Linked DNA regions of Homo sapiens. The protein of the gene in region 1 binds, or shares a complex with, the protein of each later gene. Each region holds a gene or a part of one and is shown in the gene's direction. Other genes may lie near its edges. The genes, in order: PRKG1, CNN1 and ITPR1.

Region 1 (3,661 bases):
CTACAATTCTGCAATTTCATACTACCTAAAAAAGACTAGATTTGAAAATGTCAAGCTGATTTACTTTATTCACATGGAGAAAAGAATCCACAAATTAAACTGAGTCCTTCACTGGCATGCCAGTTGACTATTATTAGCTGTCATAAGTAACTCAGCCATTTGGAAGCATTTCCTGGACAAAATTACATTATACCTGTGAAGAAAAATATAGAAGCTTTCAAGCTGTCATTCTGTTTTGGCCCTGTGTGAATTTGGTATATTAAATTGACGCTTGCTTTTTTTTTCAGTAGAGTTTTCTTTTTAATCAATCAAACGCCTACATTTCTGGAAGAAAAAGTCCAATTAGATCATTACACCTTAACTAAGAAGGCAAATCTTATAAATTTTGCTTGAATTGTTCTTACTCAAAACTACCTTAGAATATGGTATCTTATGAAAATATAATATTCTTAAAATTTTGGAGGATAAAATGAAAAGGGTATAAACTTCAATTAGAACTTTAATCCTAAAATATTGTTATTCTTGTATTTTTGGAGTTTTCCGTCCCTTACAATTTCTCCAAATTGGTCTATTCCCCAAGATATCCACTGTTTTCTACAGATTTTAGAATATAAAATTAAACATATCAACCTAAAATCTAGCTATGAATGTTATTTCAAGAGTTTTATATTTTTAATTGGCTTTTTAAAAATATGTAATTCCAATATTATAGTGAATGTTCAGTAACTTTTGTTGAAAGATAATGTGGTTTAGGCTTGCTAAAGAAAGGCTTGCTAGAATACTAAATTTACCTTGTTATTTGGAAAGAGAATCTGCTCCTATAACGTTTTAAAAATCCCCAAAGTCCCAGAGATTAGCACTTGCTATGGATTTTGGAACTATGGTTCAAGTCTAAGACAACCAATATGAATAAGTTCAATGGAGAAGGAAGAAGTAGCATTCAGCACAAGAAACTGTAGATTGTTTCTCCCACTTGTTACTGCATCTTTGTTCATTTCACCCATAGCATTGCATTTGATGTCTGAAGTAATTACCACAAAATAAAGGTAAACTACATCTTCCAAGATGTACCAACAGAAAACATTCGTCTAATTTTGTCAACATTGAATTTTTAGGATTTAAATCTTGTCTTAATGAAGACTCTAGGGCTAAAATTCATGGTCAGTTCCATAAAATGCATCTCACTTTATTTCTGAATTTTTCACAACCCCTCTATTTTCTTACATTAAAGAACATCTGGATAAGTTAGAATAGTGCCAACTTGTTTGATTTGTTATATGATTTTCTTGTTAATGTGTTGAGTATGGGAAATAAGGGCTTTCTGTGTGTCTTGACTCACAGGAAAACTGAAACTGCCAAGGGAAGCAACATTAAAACAACTGGGATAGATTGAATACATTTGAAAAAATAATTTCTGGAAAAACGCTATACATGCTTTTTATGTTTATATCTTCTTTCTTATTAAGACATGAATCAGATCCATGTGGCATTCAAAACAAATTTATTTTGGTTATATTCTTTACAAGTCATAATTTTTACCTAAAATTGTGGAATATGCATGTGAATTACACATGTGTAGTAATAAACTCAACTATTGAATTTTTCCTGTTTCATTTCTAAATGACTGAACTGATGGTAAACAAATTTAATGAAGTCAGCTACCATGTTGAAAATAAGGATATTAGAACTGATTTCATACAATAGAGGTGATCTGTGCATTATCCATAACAACGTTTTCTTTCACTATAGGACCACAGACAAATATTTATGTAAATAGGTATTTTTGTGTGATATTTTGTGGTACATATAACTTTTTTTAGTGTTTCACAGCATTATTATTTCATTTTATTTGTATTGAATAATGTTTTTAGGTCCAAGTAGACTTGAATTAATGTCATAATTGTCAGTATTATTGAAAATTATGTCAACTGTACTGTTATTCATCTGTCCCATAGTTTAGAACATGACCTGGCTATCTGGCATTGTTGCAAGTGCCTTAAATTCATGGCATCCTATTAAAAAAACAAATTTGGTGTTATGCTGCATGACAAAGACAAACACACCTCAAAATGTTGTCCTTTCTTAGCTTGCTGCGTTTTACAGTTCTTTCTGCTAACAATTTATAAGCCTTTATTATATAATATTGATGAATTACAGAAATGATGAAGTTGTTCTCTTATTTCTGTTAAATGTACCAGAGCTGTGTATCTGTTAATGAGATACAGCGTCATTTCTGTGAAATGTATAAATGTATGTGCAGGTCAAATTAATATATGACATTCTATCAGTCTGTATACAGGTATTCCTGTTTTGCTAAGCTGTGCAGATTCTGTAAAAATAAATTAGTGCAGTCAAGTTCTAACATATCTCATTTTATAGACTCCATTGACAATGGTCCAACCGAAAAGAAAAATTGGAAATGACTGCTAACCAGACCTCGTTATGAAACCAATGATGAAAAAGTCACTTGGTGCACCTCTCAACAAAACAGGATGCTTTTTCCGAGTTCTTGTATATGCAAATCATTTACGAGGCAAGTTTTCAACAGACCTAGAAAGCAAAACATTGAAAGTGTGTTGTTAGCCCTCCTCTCTGCCCCTGAATCAACAGACAGAGCTCTGGGACCTTGGCAATGACTCAGAGGTTGGGGCTTTCTGAGTAAAGGGACATTTCTTTAAGCATCATCTATCAAATTTATTTCAATGTATGATGTTTTTACAACTGGTCAGTTCTTTTGTATTCTTACAGCTATGGTTATTTGATTGTCCTCTTACAATTTGTTCTACATGAAAGAGTTCTTTGTTAGTCAGAATGCAACAAACTGTCATCAAATGGTCATTGACCACTTGCACTCTTTTGATGTAGATTAAAAACTTTTTCATAAATTTACCTGCTTTGATTTGCTCTGTATTTTTCCTGCAGCTGTAATTGCTGAGTGCCTGTTGTATACTTTATAGAGTTGAAATAAAAAAATAATTACTTTTGAACTTAGTTGATGTTTAATTCCAGACAAGATTCCAAGAATAGAATTGGTATATCATACTAGATGAAATACCAGGTAGTGCTGTTGTAGAATGTCACTATAACAAAGTAGGAAATACCTATAATCCAAGCATCCCTCATGAAATAATATACTATATTATAATCTAATATAAAACTAATCCAACAAATTGGTTTTAAAGAATTCATAGGAATAATGTTGGGCCATCCAGTGTGAAAAGCAAAGTGAATATAGATATTCACACAAACTCAGAAATTAGCAGATTTCTGAGCATGACCACCACACAGTCCTTTTTTGGGCTATCCCTAGTCAAACTCTGTACTAGGCAAAACAATCAAAGGGACAATTCTTGTATATTACTACATCCTAGGAGGAAATGATTTCATATGAAAAGCAACTTCATGAGTCTTTGTCCAAGGATTTTTCACCTGATTCCTTGGCTTCATCATATGCACAAAGAAGAAACATTTGGGGAACAATATGATTACAACAAATTCAACTCTCCAAAGCCTAGTTAAACATATTCTTTCTACATCCCTTTGTCCTTCTCTGCAGTAAATGATGCACACATGAAAACTGGCTGCAGCATGAAGATTCTCTCAATTACATTGTTTTTGTCTTTTTGACCTCACATTGCCAGTGACAGTGAGTTGAAAACCC
Region 2 (7,680 bases), on another chromosome or scaffold:
CTGTAGCCCAGCGTGGTAGCGGGTGCCTGTAATCCCAGCTACTTGGGAGGCTGAGGCTCCAGAATTGCTTGAAACCAGGAGGTGGAGGTTGCAGTGAACCGAGATCATGCCACTCCAACCTGAGCGACAGAGCGATACTCTGACTCAAAAAAAAAAAAAAAAGGAGAAGAAGAAGAAGAAATAAGGAGAAGGGAGAAGAGAGAAGGGAGAAGGGGAAGAAGGAGAAGGAGGAGGAGAAGGAAGAAAGAAGAAAGAAGAAGAAGGAGGAGGAGGAGAAGCAGCAGCAGAAGAAGAGGAAGAAGAAGGAGAACAAGAAGAAAAAGAGGAAGAGGAAGAAGAAGAGGAAGAAGAAGGAGAAGGAGAAGGAGCAGCAGCAGCAGCGGAAGAGGAAGAGGAAGAAAAGAAAGAAGAAAGAAGAAAGAAGGAGAAGGAGAAGGAGAAGAAAGAAGAAAGAAGAAAGAAGAAGAAGAAGAAGAGGGAGAAGAAGAAGAAGAAACAGCACATCTGGAGGGACTTGGAAGAAAAGGTACAAACAGTGTTACCTGGGAGGGTGGCTTGGCTTCTCTGAACCTTGAGTTTCCCATCTATAAAATGGACCTATGAGTTTCTACCCTCAGAAGGTGATGGTGAGGATTAAAAGAGATTGTGGCTGGCATGGAGTGAGTGTTCCCATAACAGAAGCCTTTAGGAACAAGAGCCTCTGCCAGATTTCTGGATAGGAAAGCTTCGTGAGGAGGGAGCTTGCAGAGCAGGATGCCAAGATAGGCCGGTGCAGAGCAGGGCTTTGACTTTCCCCAAAACACACAGACAAACACGTGTGAGTGTGGGTTTTATTTTTATTTTTACATTTTTTGAGTCAGAGTCTCACTCCCGTGGCCCAGGCTGGAGTGCAGTGGTGTGATCTTGGCTCACTGCAACCTCTGCCTGACATGCCGGGTTCAAGCAATTCTCCTGCCTCAGCCTCCCGAGTAGCTGGGATTACAGGCATGTACCACCATGCCCGGCTAATTTTGTATTTTTAGTAGACACGGGGTTTCACCATGTTGGTCAGGCTGGTCTTGAACTACTGACCTCAGGTGATCCACCCGCCTTGGCCTCTCAAAGTGCTGGGATTACAGGCGTGAGAAACCACGCCCGGCCAAGTGTGAGTTTTAAATGGTTCTGAGCATCAGGAAGGTTTTAGGGGGTCCCCTGAAGTTGAGGAGAGGCATGGCTTTCCTACAATGACTGTCCTAGACCCTTCGGGAAACCGTGCCTCTTACAAGATCCTACACTTCTCATTTAGATGGTAAACTGAGGCACAGAGGGGCTAGAGCCTGGAAAATGCCAGAAAGGAGCGAATAAGGGATGACACTCGGGTGTCTACTGGGATTGGGGCCTCGATATGGGATCAGCCCCCTCTAATGCCTCTACCCCCATCTACCAGACAGAGACGCGAAGAGAGACGGACAATACAGCGACAGCGACATGAAGAGAAACAGAATGACTCAAAGACCAGGCACAGAAACAGAGACACAGAGACAAAGGCAGAGACAGAAAAAGGCTCAGCGACCCAGAGACGGAGATACAGAGACACAGACCTACTACAATCAGAGGGACAAGGCAGTCCCCGAAAGGGCTGCCCCCTGGGGGTACCCGGGGCTGCCCCGTTGGGGGGCACGCCAAGAGCTCCCCCACCCCGCCCCCGTCGTGCCTGGGCCGTGACTTCAGAGTCCGTGCAGATTCTATAAATGGCCAAGAGGCCGCGGGCCGGGGGGCGGGGCCGAGTGAGTCATCGCGTGACGTCACCGCCGCCTGGACCTCGCCAGGTCCCGCCCCCGCCCCTCCCGGGCCGCCAGGGGGCGCCGGCTGCAGGTCCTCACATGCGCAGTAGCGAACTGCGGCCCCCGAGGGCCGCTCAGTTTGGGAGGGATCCAGGAATCTGCGCGTTCGAATCCCGCCCCTGCCACCCTCGAGCTGTGTGACCCGGCCATTCGGCGTCACCTCTCTGTGCCTCGTATAGACCCACCTCATAAGGCTGTCGTGAGGAATGAGTTAACAGGCTCAAAGCTCTTAGTACGTAGCAGGTGCTAATTGTTAGCTCATTTTATGTACTTTCTATTTTTTCTTTTTTTTTTTTTTAAATAGAGACGGGGTCTCGCTATGTTGCCTAAGCTGGTCTCGGGTCTCGAACTCCAGGGCTCAAGCGATCCTCCCGCCTTGGCCTCGTATTTTATGTATTTTCGTGTATGTTCAACATATCATGACATGCCATCAACTAGCACATTGCCTTAGCTCAGTGGTTGGCAAACAGGGGTGATCTGCTTCCACCCCGACCCCAATCATGGGACATTGGCAATGTGTGTAGACATTTCTTCTTTTAATTTTTCTTTTTTAGAGACCATGGTCTTGCTATCTTGGCCAGATGGTTCTCAAACTCCTGGGCTCAAGGGATCCTCCCACCTCAGCCTCCTTAGTAGCTGGGACTACAGGGTCCTGCCGCAGTGCCTCAACATTTCTGTTTATTAGGACTAAGAGAGTGCTACTGGCATGTAGCAGGTAGAGGCCAGGCATGCTGCTTGAAGTCTTACAATGAATGCCCAAGGCAGCCCCCCAACCATGAAGAATTATCCAGCCTCAGCTGTCAACAGTGTGGAGGTTGAGAAACCCCACCTTAGCCTCATAGTTGAGGTTCATGGAGCATGGTCTCAAATTCTCCTCTGCCCCTGGCCTGCTGTGTGACGCTGAAAAAGTGATTCCAAGCCCCCGTGCCTCAGTTTCCCCACCTGTAAAGCAAAGTACTTGTATTAATAATAACAGTGTCAGCTGGGCACGGTGGCTCACGCCTGTAATCCCAGCACTTTGCAAGGCCGAGGTGGGCAGATCAACTGAGGTCAGGAGTTCGAGACCAGCCTGGCTAACATGGCAAAACCCCGTCTCTACTAAAAATACAAAAAATAGCCAGTCGTGGTGGCAGACACCTGTCATCCCAGCTACTTGGGAGGCTGAGGCAGGAGAATCGCTTGAACCCAGGAGGTGGAGGTTGCAGTGAGCCGAGATAGCATCACTGCACTCCAGCCTGGGGAATAGAGACTCTGTCTCCAAATAATAATAATAATAATAATAATAATAATAATAACAGTGTCCATCTCTGAGGGCGTCATGAGAATTGAATGGATATATGTACAGAGTTGGAACATGGCCTGACATAAGGGCTGTAGTCTGTGGCATATTGCAGCCATGCCATTAGCATGTGACCGATAAACTGCATATCCTCAACATATCATTAGTGTGTGGCAGGTTGCAGACATGTCATCCAAGTGTCACAAACATGGCCTTGCCATGTGGGGCATGATGTGGGCATAGCATCCACCCCTGTGGTCCAGGGGTGAGATCTGGCTGGGTAGGGCTGTTTGACAGGGACACAGTTCACGGCCTGGGACTTGCCAACAAAGTCACCCTGTAGTTCAGGTGACACACAAGTGGATGGGGAGGGTGAGACCCAGGATCTCTTCTCCCCCAGGTCCTTATGAGGGGCTGGAGGAGACAGAACTGGGGTGCTGGACCCTCAGCATAAAGAATGCTATAGGCTGGGCATGGTGACTCATGCCTGTAAATCCCAGCGTTTTGGGAGGCCAAGGCGGGCAGATTGCTTGAGCCCAGAAATTTGAGACCAGCCTGGGCAACATAGCGAGACCCCGGGCAACATAGCGAGACCCCATCTCTAAAAAAATAAAATAAAATTAGCCAGGTTGGTGGCACAAGTCTGCAATTCTAACTACTTGGATGGGCTGAGATGGGAGGATCACTTGAGCCTGGGAGGTCAAGGCTGCAGTGAGCTGTGATTGTGCCACTGCACTCCAGCCGAGGGGACAGAGTGAAACCTTGCCTTAAAAAGACTGCTATGGCCCGAGTCCCTCTGCTGTGCCGGGCACTGTGCTGGGCATGTAACAGGCATATTCTTCTGATCTTTACAACTCTCCCATGAGGCAGGCACTATCGTTAGCCCATTTTACAGATGTGGCCATAGAGGCCCAGAGAGGAGAAGGGGCTTACCTAAGGCTATAGACTGTTGGTATCTGGAGATAAACCCGGGATGGTGCTCACTAAACTACCTTGGGTGTCAGTCCTGCTTCAAGACTCCAGAGAGATAAAGAGAGATGACCTCAGAGACAAAGAGACTCAGACCCAGCCAGAGGCCCAATGGACAGTGGGAGGGGTGGGTGGAAGAAGGCTGGTCTCTGTCTGACCAAGCCCCCCCAGAATAACGCAGGCTGCCCCCCTAGGTGGAAACAATGACACAATCAGCTCCCAATACCAAGGGCCTGACATCACAAGGGGAGGGGAAGGCAGCTGAGGTTGTGGGGGGAGGTGCCCCGCCCCTTGGCAGGCCCCTACAGCCAATGGAACGGCCCTGGAAGAGACCCGGGTCGCCTCCGGAGCTTCAAAAACATGTGAGGAGGGAAGAGTGTGCAGACGGAACTTCAGCCGCTGCCTCTGTTCTCAGCGTCAGTGCCGCCACTGCCCCCGCCAGAGCCCACCGGCCAGCATGTCCTCTGCTCACTTCAACCGAGGCCCTGCCTACGGGCTGTCAGCCGAGGTTAAGAACAAGGTAGGGCTGGAGGGCCTCCCTGGCCTGGCCCACACGTCCTGCCAGGCCAGAGCCCTGAGCTTGGGGTCCCTTGAACCCCCTCCTGCCTATCCTATGTGACTTGGAAACTGAGAGGGGAAAAGGGAGTGATATGGGATAGGGGCTGCCTGTCTCCCCCTGAACATCCCGGAGCCCCCAGCTATGGTTGGGGCTGGAATGGGGGGGCACACAGCCACACATAAACAGAGGGGGTCAGTCCATTGCAAAGATACCCACCTGATCAGTCTTCTGTTAACCCTTCGTGTTCTTGGGGGGAACAACATAGGGGGAAGACTTGTTGATTTTTCCATATCCCCCGGCCTGACAAAGAAATTGGGGAGCGCTTGAGTGCTGGGGTACCTGGGAAGTGACGCCGTGAAAGTGTGGGAGATCCTGAAGACAGAGGGGGACGGTGAAAGGCAGGAAGCGGGCATCAGAAGTGCGGCAGGGGTCTCCTGACTGTGGAGCTAGGAAGATACCTGGACACCACCTTCATGCTATGGTTGGGTAAACTGAGGTTCGGAGAGGAGAGGCAAATAGCTGGGGTCCCAGGTAAAGCAGGTACAGCGCTCGGACCCTGGACTCACCCCCCATACACCAGGATGGGCTCAGCTTCTCCCAGCTGGAGAACTTTAAGTTTCCAGCCCACTGGAATCGCCCCAACAGTATTGCCGAGGGAGGAGTTCCTGCCCCATTTGACAGAGGGGAACACTGAGGCTCAGGGTGGCTTTTCCCAGGGTCCCATGGTGAGGAAGTGGGGGACTGGGTTGGAACCTGGGTCGAGGGATCTCGGGGCTGGAGGAGGGGGCTGGTGGGGGGCGGGTCCTCGGGCGAGAGACAGATCCCAGCGCCGCCCTCCTCCCCCCCAGCGCCGGCCCCAGAGCCGCGCAGAGCCGCGCAGAGACGCCGCGCCTTATAAGGCGGCCTCGGGGAGCCCGGGCCACGCTATATAAGGGCCGGTTTGCTTTATAAAGCCGGGCTGGTGGCGTGGGGGGCGGCAGGGCCAGGGCCAGGTGAGGGGGCCGCCCCTCCCACCTCCCCCCACTCACCCGGGAGAAGAAGAGGCAGCCCGGTCCCCTAGGGGCTGGGAGCCTGGCTGGGCTTGGGCGGAGGGTTCTGGAGAAATGGGAGTGGAGTGGGGGAGGGGGGGGACAGTGGAGAGAGGGAAAAGCAGGGAGGTGGGGGGAGAGGCAGACAGAGATACTGGGAGCCTGAGACACCCTAGGGACAGACGGGGGAGGGCGAGCCAGGAGCGAGATAAGACCTAGACAAGGATGGAGGGGCAGGGAGAGGAGACAGAGCCCCACCACCCCCACCCCAGGCAGGAAACCTGGAGACAGAGAAAGACCTAGAGAGGCAGATATACAAGACCCAGGAGCCCTACCCCTGGCCAGACAGGGACTAGCCACCTAGAGAGATGGGGACCCAAGACTGGGCCAAGAAAAGACAGCGCTGGGGAAGAGAGAGACAGAGGAGTCGGGGGGATAAGAGGGAGAGAGACATACAGACGTGCAAGGGGTGGGGGCTAAGACAGAGACAAGCCCCCACCACTAACCAGAGACAGAGCCCTGGAGCTGAAGACCTGGGGGACACGGAGAGACAGAGATGTATGACCAGCACTCCTCTGCAAGCCAGCACCCAGGGACACCTCCTTAGACATCCTTCTTCCCTTCCTGAGGTGCCCTCTCTTCCAACAGGGGGCACAGAGGGGGCAGGGCTAGAGGAAGAGAAGCCCCAAGTTTGGCCTGGGCGAAAAACCAGGGTGCCGGGTGCCACCCCTCTAGCTCAGAGGATCCAGCTCCCCACACCCCACCCCTCATCTACATTCCCTGGTGCCAAACCTCAGAATGCCCGGAATGGCCCCCTGGGCAGGTGCCACCTCAGCCCTGGCTCTCAGCCCGCCCCAGCCCCCATCCCCCAACTATGGATCTGGGGCAAAATTGCCTTAGTTGGGAAGGACGAGGGAGATCAGGCTCTAGGAAGTTCAGACAGGACCCAGGGAGCCCAGGCTGCCCCCAATGCATCCTCACCCCTTTCTCTGTGCCCCCTGCCCTCCCCTCGCCCCAGCTGGCCCAGAAGTATGACCACCAGCGGGAGCAGGAGCTGAGAGAGTGGATCGAGGGGGTGACAGGCCGTCGCATCGGCAACAACTTCATGGACGGCCTCAAAGATGGCATCATTCTTTGCGAGTGAGTGAGGCTCTCGAAGCCGAGACCCTGCAACATCCCCCAACTCCATGCAGCCCCTCAACCCCCAAAACAACCATGATCCTGGAACTGAGTTGAACACTTTCTATTGGATACCTTTGGGGTGGCCAGTAATCATTGTGCCCATTTAACAGGCACAGAAAACTGAGGCTCAGGTGAAATGCATTGCACCAAGTCCCACGTGGTTTCAAGGGAAATGACTCTAGAATCTTAACCACCATGCTATATAGGGTAGGCCCATCTGTGGCCGCCAGAGTCCCCAGAAAGAGCGGTCACAGCTAAAAGGCAGCAGCCAACAGCTGTTCATGGCTGGCTTGGTGATGTGAGGAGAGATGTGCAGCAATAATTAAAGGAGGCCCTGGTTTTCTTTCTGTTTTCTTTTTGTTTTTTTGAGATACAGTCTTGTTCTGTTGCCCAGGCTGCAGTGCAGAGACACAATCTCGGCTCACTGCAACCTCCGCCTCCAGGGTTTAAGTGATTCTCCTGCCTCAGCCTCCCCAATAGCTGGGATTACAGGCACGCACCACCATGCCTGGCTAATTTTTGTATTTTTTTAAAGTAGAGATGGGGTTTCACCATGTTGGCCAGGATGGTTACGAACTCCTGACCTCAATTGATCCACCTACCTCAGCCTCCCAAAGTGCTGGGATTACAGGCACGTGCCACCATGCCCGGTTAATTTTTGTTTTTTTTTTTTTTTTTTCAGTAGAGATGGAGTTTCACCATGTTGACTAGGCTGGTCTTGAACTCCTGACTTCAAGTGATCCACCTGCCTTGGCCTCCCAAAGTGCTGGGATTGCAGGCACATGCCACCACGCCTGGCTAATTTTTGTATTTTTTTTTTTTTTTTTTAGTAGAGACAGT
Region 3 (7,297 bases), on another chromosome or scaffold:
GTTTTTGTTCTCCATTTTTTCTTTCAAGTTCATGTGTGTGTGTGTGTGTGTGTATGCATATGTACACTGAAAGTACAATCTGCTCTTTGAATAATTCAAATCAGAACAGAAAATCCTTTCAAGATATCATTCTTATCAGGCAGGGAAAGTTCTTCATGTTCTAAGTGAATTACTCTGGCTCTTGCCTTGAGACCCATGAAAGTCATTTGGGGTTGACAATGGTATCTATTTAAACCAAGTGATTGTCTTTTGGAGGGAATTGGCATCTTTTCTTTAGGAATGAGAAGTGGAATGGTTGCTTAGAAAAAAAGAGATAGATGAACTCCACAGAAAGATCAAGAGTCTTTTCTTCAAAATATTTTTAAGTGAGGAAGATCAGGGTGTTGGTATTGCGGGGAGGGAGGAGAGTGGGCAGAGAGAAAGATAAAAAAGAAACCTTTAATCCAATGGTGTGCAACCAACTGACTTCCAGAGGGGGGAATATCACATGGCTTTTCAACTCATTTATAAAGATATCATGGAAACTGTCTGATTTCTTCATGAGCAGCTCTTAGAAAACAAACAAAAATAAAACAAACACCAAATATGAACAACAGAAAAAAACAGCCAAAATAAAAGTAGGCCTGGAGTTAGGTTTCTAGGTCAAGCTGTCTTTGGCTACATCTAATTAAGGAGTCTCCACAGGGCCAGTGTCTATCTTGTTTACTATTGGTTTGATTTTTAAAAATAAAACACATTGCATTTGCAGGCTGTCTGTTAACCAGAAGTCCATGCAGTTTTTTTTTTTTCCATTTTTGCTGTTTTAAGTTTGTGCATAGCTCAATTGATGAATGCAATTAAGGCTTGAAGTCGGTGATGTGAATGACATAACTTCTATGATTCCTTACAATTCTCTTGGTTTCTGTGGTTCTGAGATGATTGCTAATGAGAATAAGCCAGATACACCACTGAAACCGTCACCCATTCAACTTTGAGATTTCTAAATTGGATGTAGTTTAAGGCACATGGTGTGGTAAATCTATTTAACAGACTCTAAGACCTGTTCAAGTTGTGTGCGATTCAAATGTTTTATTCTTTATTCAACAAATTTCTTGAGCACCTGCTATGTACTAAGATGTATTCCAGGTGCTCAGGATATAGCAATGAACAAACCATCCCGTTCCCAAGAGGCTTACATCTCAGTTGGTGGGAGGCAGCCAATATAAATAAACAAGTAAGTATTATAGTATTAGAGGTAGTAAAAGCTATGGAGAAAAAGAAAACTGGTTAAAGGGGGAACAGAAAATAACAAGTGGAGAAATTAGATCCCTTGTGCATTGCCGGTGGGAATGTAAAATGGTGAAGCTGCTGTGGAAAACAGCATGGCAGTTACTAAAAAAAATTAAACATAAAATTACTATATGTCCCAGCAATTCCACTTCAAGGTATATACTTTAAAAAATTGAAAGTAGGGACGTGAGCAGATATTTGTACACCTGTGTCAGTAGAAGCATTATCACAGTAGCCAAAAGGTAGAAACAACACAAGTCTACTGATGAATGAACAGATAAAATGTGAAATATACATACAATGGAATATTATTCAGCCTTAAAAAGGGAATTCTGACACATGCTACAATGTGGATGAACCTTGAAAACATGCTAAGTGAAACAAGCCAGAAATAAAAGGACACATATTTTATGATTTTTCTTATAGAGGCATCTAGAGTAGTCAGATCCCTGCAGACAGAAAGTAGAATGGGGATTGCTGGGGGAGATAGAAGACAGGAAGGGGGAGTTAGTGTTTATTGAGGATAGAGTTTCAGTTTGGAAAGATGAAAAAGTTCTGGAAATGGATGGTGGTGATGTCACACAACAGTGTGAATGTACTTAGTGCCACTGAGTTATAACATTTCAAAGTGGTATATTTTATGTTATGTATATTTTACAGTAATTTTAAAAAGCAACAAAACATGATGAGGGGTATTAAGGGAGTACTCAGGTGGGGATTAGATCTTTACTACATGACATCTCAGCACAGATCTGAAGGAGGCAAACGAGTTGACCCTGTAGCTGTCAGGGAAAAAGTGTGTTCCAAATGTCAGAGCAGCAAGTACAGAGGCCCTGAGATAGGAGTGTTTGTGACATGTTGGAGGAAGGAGAAGAAGGCCAGGGGAGAGTGCTAGGAGTTCAGGAGGGAGAGGGAGTCAAGGTCCAGACCTGTAGGGACCAGATTTTGCAGGTCAACAGTGGTTTATCTGAGGACTTGTAAACTCTCACGGAATTCTCAGTGTGGTTTTCAACATCACAAAACTACATTGTCCTTTCTGAAGAGACTCTGGTAAGGTTGGCAGGATCACATACCAGATGGGAACTCGATAGGGGGTAAAACCCAGATTTCTGGACTGTCTGGTTAATGACAGGACTTACCTGGAGTTGTAATTCACTTCAGTAGAAAAGGAAAGTTTGACAAATAGGTGAACGTACAGTTGACTTGGAGAGCAAATTGTAAGAACATAATGATAATCCTGGAGTTTCAACACAAACCTATGTCTTACCGCCACCCTGCGTTGTATCCAGTGTCGTTTTAAGAGATATTTACAAGGAGGACTAATATTCTGCTCTCCAGCATCCTTGAGGAATTAGAAGCTTCACATCAGTGATTCTCCTTAATAAGTGAAGTGGACCCCTGCACATGTGCAAACTTAAAGCAAACCTCAAATTTTGTTACTTATTACATAAGATATACATATTCATGTAGCACACACCTTGGACTCGGCTACTCAGGGGACGGAGGCAGGAGAATTACTTGAGCCCGGGGGTTTGAGGCTGTAATATACTATGATTGCATCTGTGATAGCTACTGTACTCCAGCAAGACCCCATCTCTGTTAAAAAAATTTTTTTAAGGAGAAAAAGATAGCATATTCATTGTAGTGCAACATTAGGAAATAAAGAGGAGCAATGAAACAAAACAAAACAATTCAACTATTAGAGATTAGGGTTTCAGGCTTTTCCTCTAAGTATGCATATGTAAAATTTACGTATATATTTAAATTTCATAAAAAGGGACTAACACAGTATCTCTCATTTGGTAAATTACCTTTTGTACATCTTGAACATCTTTTTAATAAACAGACATCTGTGTCTCATTTTTCTAAATGTGCCTACCCCTTTGATGGCCTTTCATTTTTATTGAGTCTAGGTTTATACTTCCCTGATATATATACATATATAAATAGATATTTGTAAAAAATACATAATATAATAATTTTACACATACACGTATTTAACAGTTTGAATTAGGATCCAAATAAGGTAAATACATTACAAATGGTTGATGTTCACTAATCTCTGTATTTCCTCTACAGATCTTTTTTCCATGCATTTTTTTTGTTGTTATCGAAGAAACTGGGTGATACACGTCTCCACAGTTTAGACTTTGCTGACTGCATCAGTGCAATGTGGTTTAACATGTTTCTGTATCCCCTTGGGGTACCATAATTTGGTAGTTAGATGTAGAGGCTTCATCAAAGTTAGGTTCTTTTCTTTTTTAAATTGAGAAGGGGTCTCACTATGTTGCCTCGGCTGGCCTTGGACTCCTGGTCTCAAGCAGTCTTCCTGTGCCAGCCTTCCCAGTAGCTGGGACTCCAGTAAGTCTGCTCTGTAAACTTTGCTTAGGTGGGTGTGAGATGTTGGATGTCTACTCTTGTTATATGAGCACCCCTTGATGCTCACTACCTGAATCCATTAGTTCTCTCGTCAGTGAGAAATGGGCTGGTAAAGTTCCTGAGATTTCGACACAGCCCTTGTTGTCTTTGCTAGCTTTTTTGATTTCTGTATAACAAGATGTTCCAGGCTCATCTTCTCTATTTCTTATCCCAGACCAAGAATCGGCCTTTTCTCCAAGGAGCCTTTGCTCTTTTAAGAGGGAAATTTTGTTTGTTTTGTTTTTTTGAGACAGAGTCTTACTCTGCTGCCCAGGCTGGAGTGCAGTGGCATGATTTCAGCTCACTGCAACTTCTGCCTCTTGGGCTCAAGCTACCCTCTCACCTAATCCTCCTGAGTAGCTGGGACTATGGGCATTCACCACCACACCTGGCTAATCTTTTTTGTTTTTTTGTAGGGACGGGATCTCGCCATGTTGTCCAGGATGCTCTCAAACACCTAGGCTCAAGCAGTGTTCTCACCTTGACCTCCCAAAGTGTTGGGATTACAGGCGTGAGACCATCATGCCTGGCCAAAATGGTATTTAGAGATCTCCACCTAGGGCCAAGTAGGTACTCTTGTCATCCTCATCTTACAGACGAGAAGACAAATTAAAATGAAGAAAACTTAAAACTTGAATTTCCTAGGTGAAAGTATTTCCAAAATGCAATTGACCTATCCTTGCCTTTTTGCAAAGAATTCTGAATATAATCTAAACTTTTTTTAAAAATTGGTTTTGGGTTTAGCCTTAGTGTCCTGAGGCTAAGACATCATTGTTCTCCCCAGATGAGCAGGAATGTTACTCTTGTTCTGTATCCGTGTTTTTCAAACTCTGTGGAAACCCACTAAGAGGTTGTTAAATCAATTTAGTGGGCCTTGATGAACTTTTTATTTTTAGTTTTTGAAACAGGGTCTTGCTCTGTTGCCAAGGCTGGAGTACAGTGACATGATGTTGGCTCACTGCAGCCTCAACCTCCCAGGCACAAGCGATCCTCTCACCTCGGTCTCCTGAGTAGTTGGGACCACCAGCGTGCCCCACCACTCCTGGCTAATTTAAAAAAAAAATTTTTTTTTGTAGAGATTGGGTCTCCCTGTATTGTCCAGGTTGGCCTTGAACTTCTAGGCTCAAACGATCCTCTCGCCTTGGCCTCCCAAAGTGCTGGGACTGGAGGTGTGAGTCACCGGGCCCAGCCAAACTTTTTTTTTTTTTAATGACATGCACTAGAATAGAAAACATGGAAGTGTATTTCGTGGATACTTAAAAAGAACTGTGTATGTTGCAACAAAATTCTTTGTCTCACATACACAATGAACATTGGGTTGTAAGTTCAATAGTTTTCTTACTCTGAGCTGCAGTCAAAAGTTTGAGAAACACTGTACTACATCTTTGCCACTCCAAGTGTGGTCCCCAGACCAGCGTTACTGACATTAACTGGGAACTTGCTAGCAATTGCAGACTCTCAGACCCTACTCCACATTCAATGAATGAGAACCTACATTTTTGCAAGATCCTCAAGTGATTCACACACACGTGAAAATACGAGAAGATATGCATTGGAGGATGCCTGTCCCTGTGCTTTTTCAGTCCTTGTCATTTAGTGGTTCCTTTGCTTTTTCATGGCTAGCTCTCACCTGTTCAGGCTGAAGCTGACCTTTGTACTTTTCCCCTGCAGCCTTATTTTCAGTGAAGTGGAAAGGTAGGCTAATCACCAACCTGAGGTGAGAGTAAGTAGTTTTCACATGATTCCCTCTCCAACAAACATGGGAACTTTGATGCTTACATTTGGGGGAGCTTTTATTCGCTGTTCACATGAAGGCAGAAAGAGACCAGAAGGCACATGTACCCCTACTTAGAGTTGTGAAGTCACTGCTGTTCACCTGCTGTCATGGGACAATGAGGAACTTATGTTTTATCATACTTTCTGACCTGTCCCATCAGCAGAACTTCTGGATGGCTTGATATAATGCGGCTTATCAGAAGAAGATGAACATAAGAAAAATATCACTAGTCTCCAAGTTTCTTGCTGTTCTTTTGCATTTCAGAAGGAGCTTTGTCTGGGAAATGATTTTCTTTTGCAAGAACAGCTTAAAAGCATCCCAAGCACATATTTCTGAACAGAAAAAGCTGATACGACACCCAGACGACGGACATTCATTTGTTTGCCTTGTCGTGTGTGTGTATGTTGTACCTCATGTGTCCCTCCCCACCCCCGTCTGTCCACCTCGCCAGATCCTTCTATTCCTTAGGGCCCAGCCCAAACGCTTCCTCCTCCGGGAAGTTTTTTATGATACTTGAAAATCTGTCATTTGAAACTCCAGGGCCCTAAAACCTATTTTCCTTTTGGGCCTTTTGTGTTTTTTTAACTCATAAGAATACCTGGCACACAGGAAGTGCTTACACAATAAGTAATTTGTATATATGTTTTTTCTCCCTTTGAAGGCTGCTTGGAAAAACTAATTTTTTGTACCCCTCTCTCCTTTTTTTTTTTTTGAGAAGGAATCTCGCTCTGTCACCAGGCTGGAGTGCAGTGGCCTGATCTCAGCTCACTGCAACCTCCGCCTGCCAGGTTCAAGCGATTCTCCTGCCTCAGCCTCCTGAGTAGCTGGGTCTACAGGCATGTGCCACCATGCCTAGCTAATTTTTATATTTTTAGTAGAGATGGGATTTCACCATGTTGGCCAGGATTGTCTCGATCTCTTGACCTCATGACCTGCCCACCTTGGCCTCCCGAAGTGCTGGGATTACAGGCGTGATCCACTGCGCCTGGCCCCTGTACCCCTCTCCTGATTAAATATTTCTTGAACTGGCATCTTTCTTTGAAAAGCCTTACAGCCAGGCATCGTGGCTCACGCCTGTAATCCTAGCACTTTGGGATGCCAAGGTGGGTGGGTCACCTGAGGTCAGGAGTTTGAGACCAGCCTGGCCAACATGGTGAAACCCCATCTCTACTAAAATTACAAAAAAAATTAGCTGGGCATGATGGTGGGCACCTGTAGTCCCAGCTACTTGGGAGGCTGAGGCAGGAGAATTGCTTGAATTCAGGAGGTGGAGGTTGCAGTGAGCTGAGATCGCACCACTGCACTCCAGCCTGGGGGGCAGAGTGAGACTCCATCTCAATAAAAAGAAAAAAAGAAAAGCCCTTTATTGCAGAGGGTGACGTGAGGACCATGTAGAGATATTAAGCATTTCCTTTTGATAGCTTTTGAGGTGTTGTTCAGTACAAATCTCTGCAGGACATTTGTCTTGGGAAACTGTTGAGTATTCATAAAAGGGAGTGGAAAAATCAGGTAGTGAAACCAAGCTGCTTTCAGGTCATATTGGTATTGCCCTGGTGAGCCACAGGATGGGGACTCCGCAGTACCGAGTGTTGACTGCTTCTTGGGTAAGGGGCAAAACATGGAACATCTGTGCATCTGTTTCCTCTTCTGTAGAATAGGTGTAAAAATAAAAATACCTGCTTCGGGTCATTGCTGCCGAGTTGTCTAAAAACAAATGTTTGCAGAAGGCGTTACAGATAAAAAAACAAAGCAAAACCTATCTATGTCCTAGAGCAGTGGTCTCAATGGGGACAGGGAGAGTGATTTGTGTCCTCCAGGGGACATTTGGTATCG

Evidence for each region.
Region 2: PRKG1 (region 1) and CNN1 share a complex: the UniProt entries of both Homo sapiens proteins name them as parts of the cGMP kinase signaling complex.
Region 3: PRKG1 (region 1) and ITPR1 share a complex: the UniProt entries of both Homo sapiens proteins name them as parts of the cGMP kinase signaling complex.

Annotation. Positions count from the first base shown.
Region 1 is NC_000010.11:52,295,364-52,299,024, forward strand, and holds the end of PRKG1 (cGMP-dependent protein kinase 1), read left to right. Parts: 3' UTR 1-2,987; downstream 2,988-3,661. UniProt on the Homo sapiens protein: Serine/threonine protein kinase that acts as a key mediator of the nitric oxide (NO)/cGMP signaling pathway. GMP binding activates PRKG1, which phosphorylates serines and threonines on many cellular proteins.
Region 2 is NC_000019.10:11,534,400-11,542,079, forward strand, and holds the start of CNN1 (calponin-1), read left to right. Parts: upstream 1-4,451; 5' UTR 4,452-4,528; coding exon 4,529-4,591; intron 4,592-4,895; exon of another isoform or gene 4,896-5,170; intron 5,171-5,585; exon of another isoform or gene 5,586-6,026; coding exon of another isoform or gene 6,027-6,287; intron 6,288-6,676; coding exon 6,677-6,798; intron 6,799-7,680. UniProt on the Homo sapiens protein: Thin filament-associated protein that is implicated in the regulation and modulation of smooth muscle contraction. It is capable of binding to actin, calmodulin and tropomyosin. The interaction of calponin with actin inhibits the actomyosin Mg-ATPase activity.
Region 3 is NC_000003.12:4,496,284-4,503,580, forward strand, and holds part of ITPR1 (inositol 1,4,5-trisphosphate-gated calcium channel ITPR1), read left to right. Parts: intron 1-7,297. UniProt on the Homo sapiens protein: Inositol 1,4,5-trisphosphate-gated calcium channel that, upon inositol 1,4,5-trisphosphate binding, mediates calcium release from the endoplasmic reticulum (ER).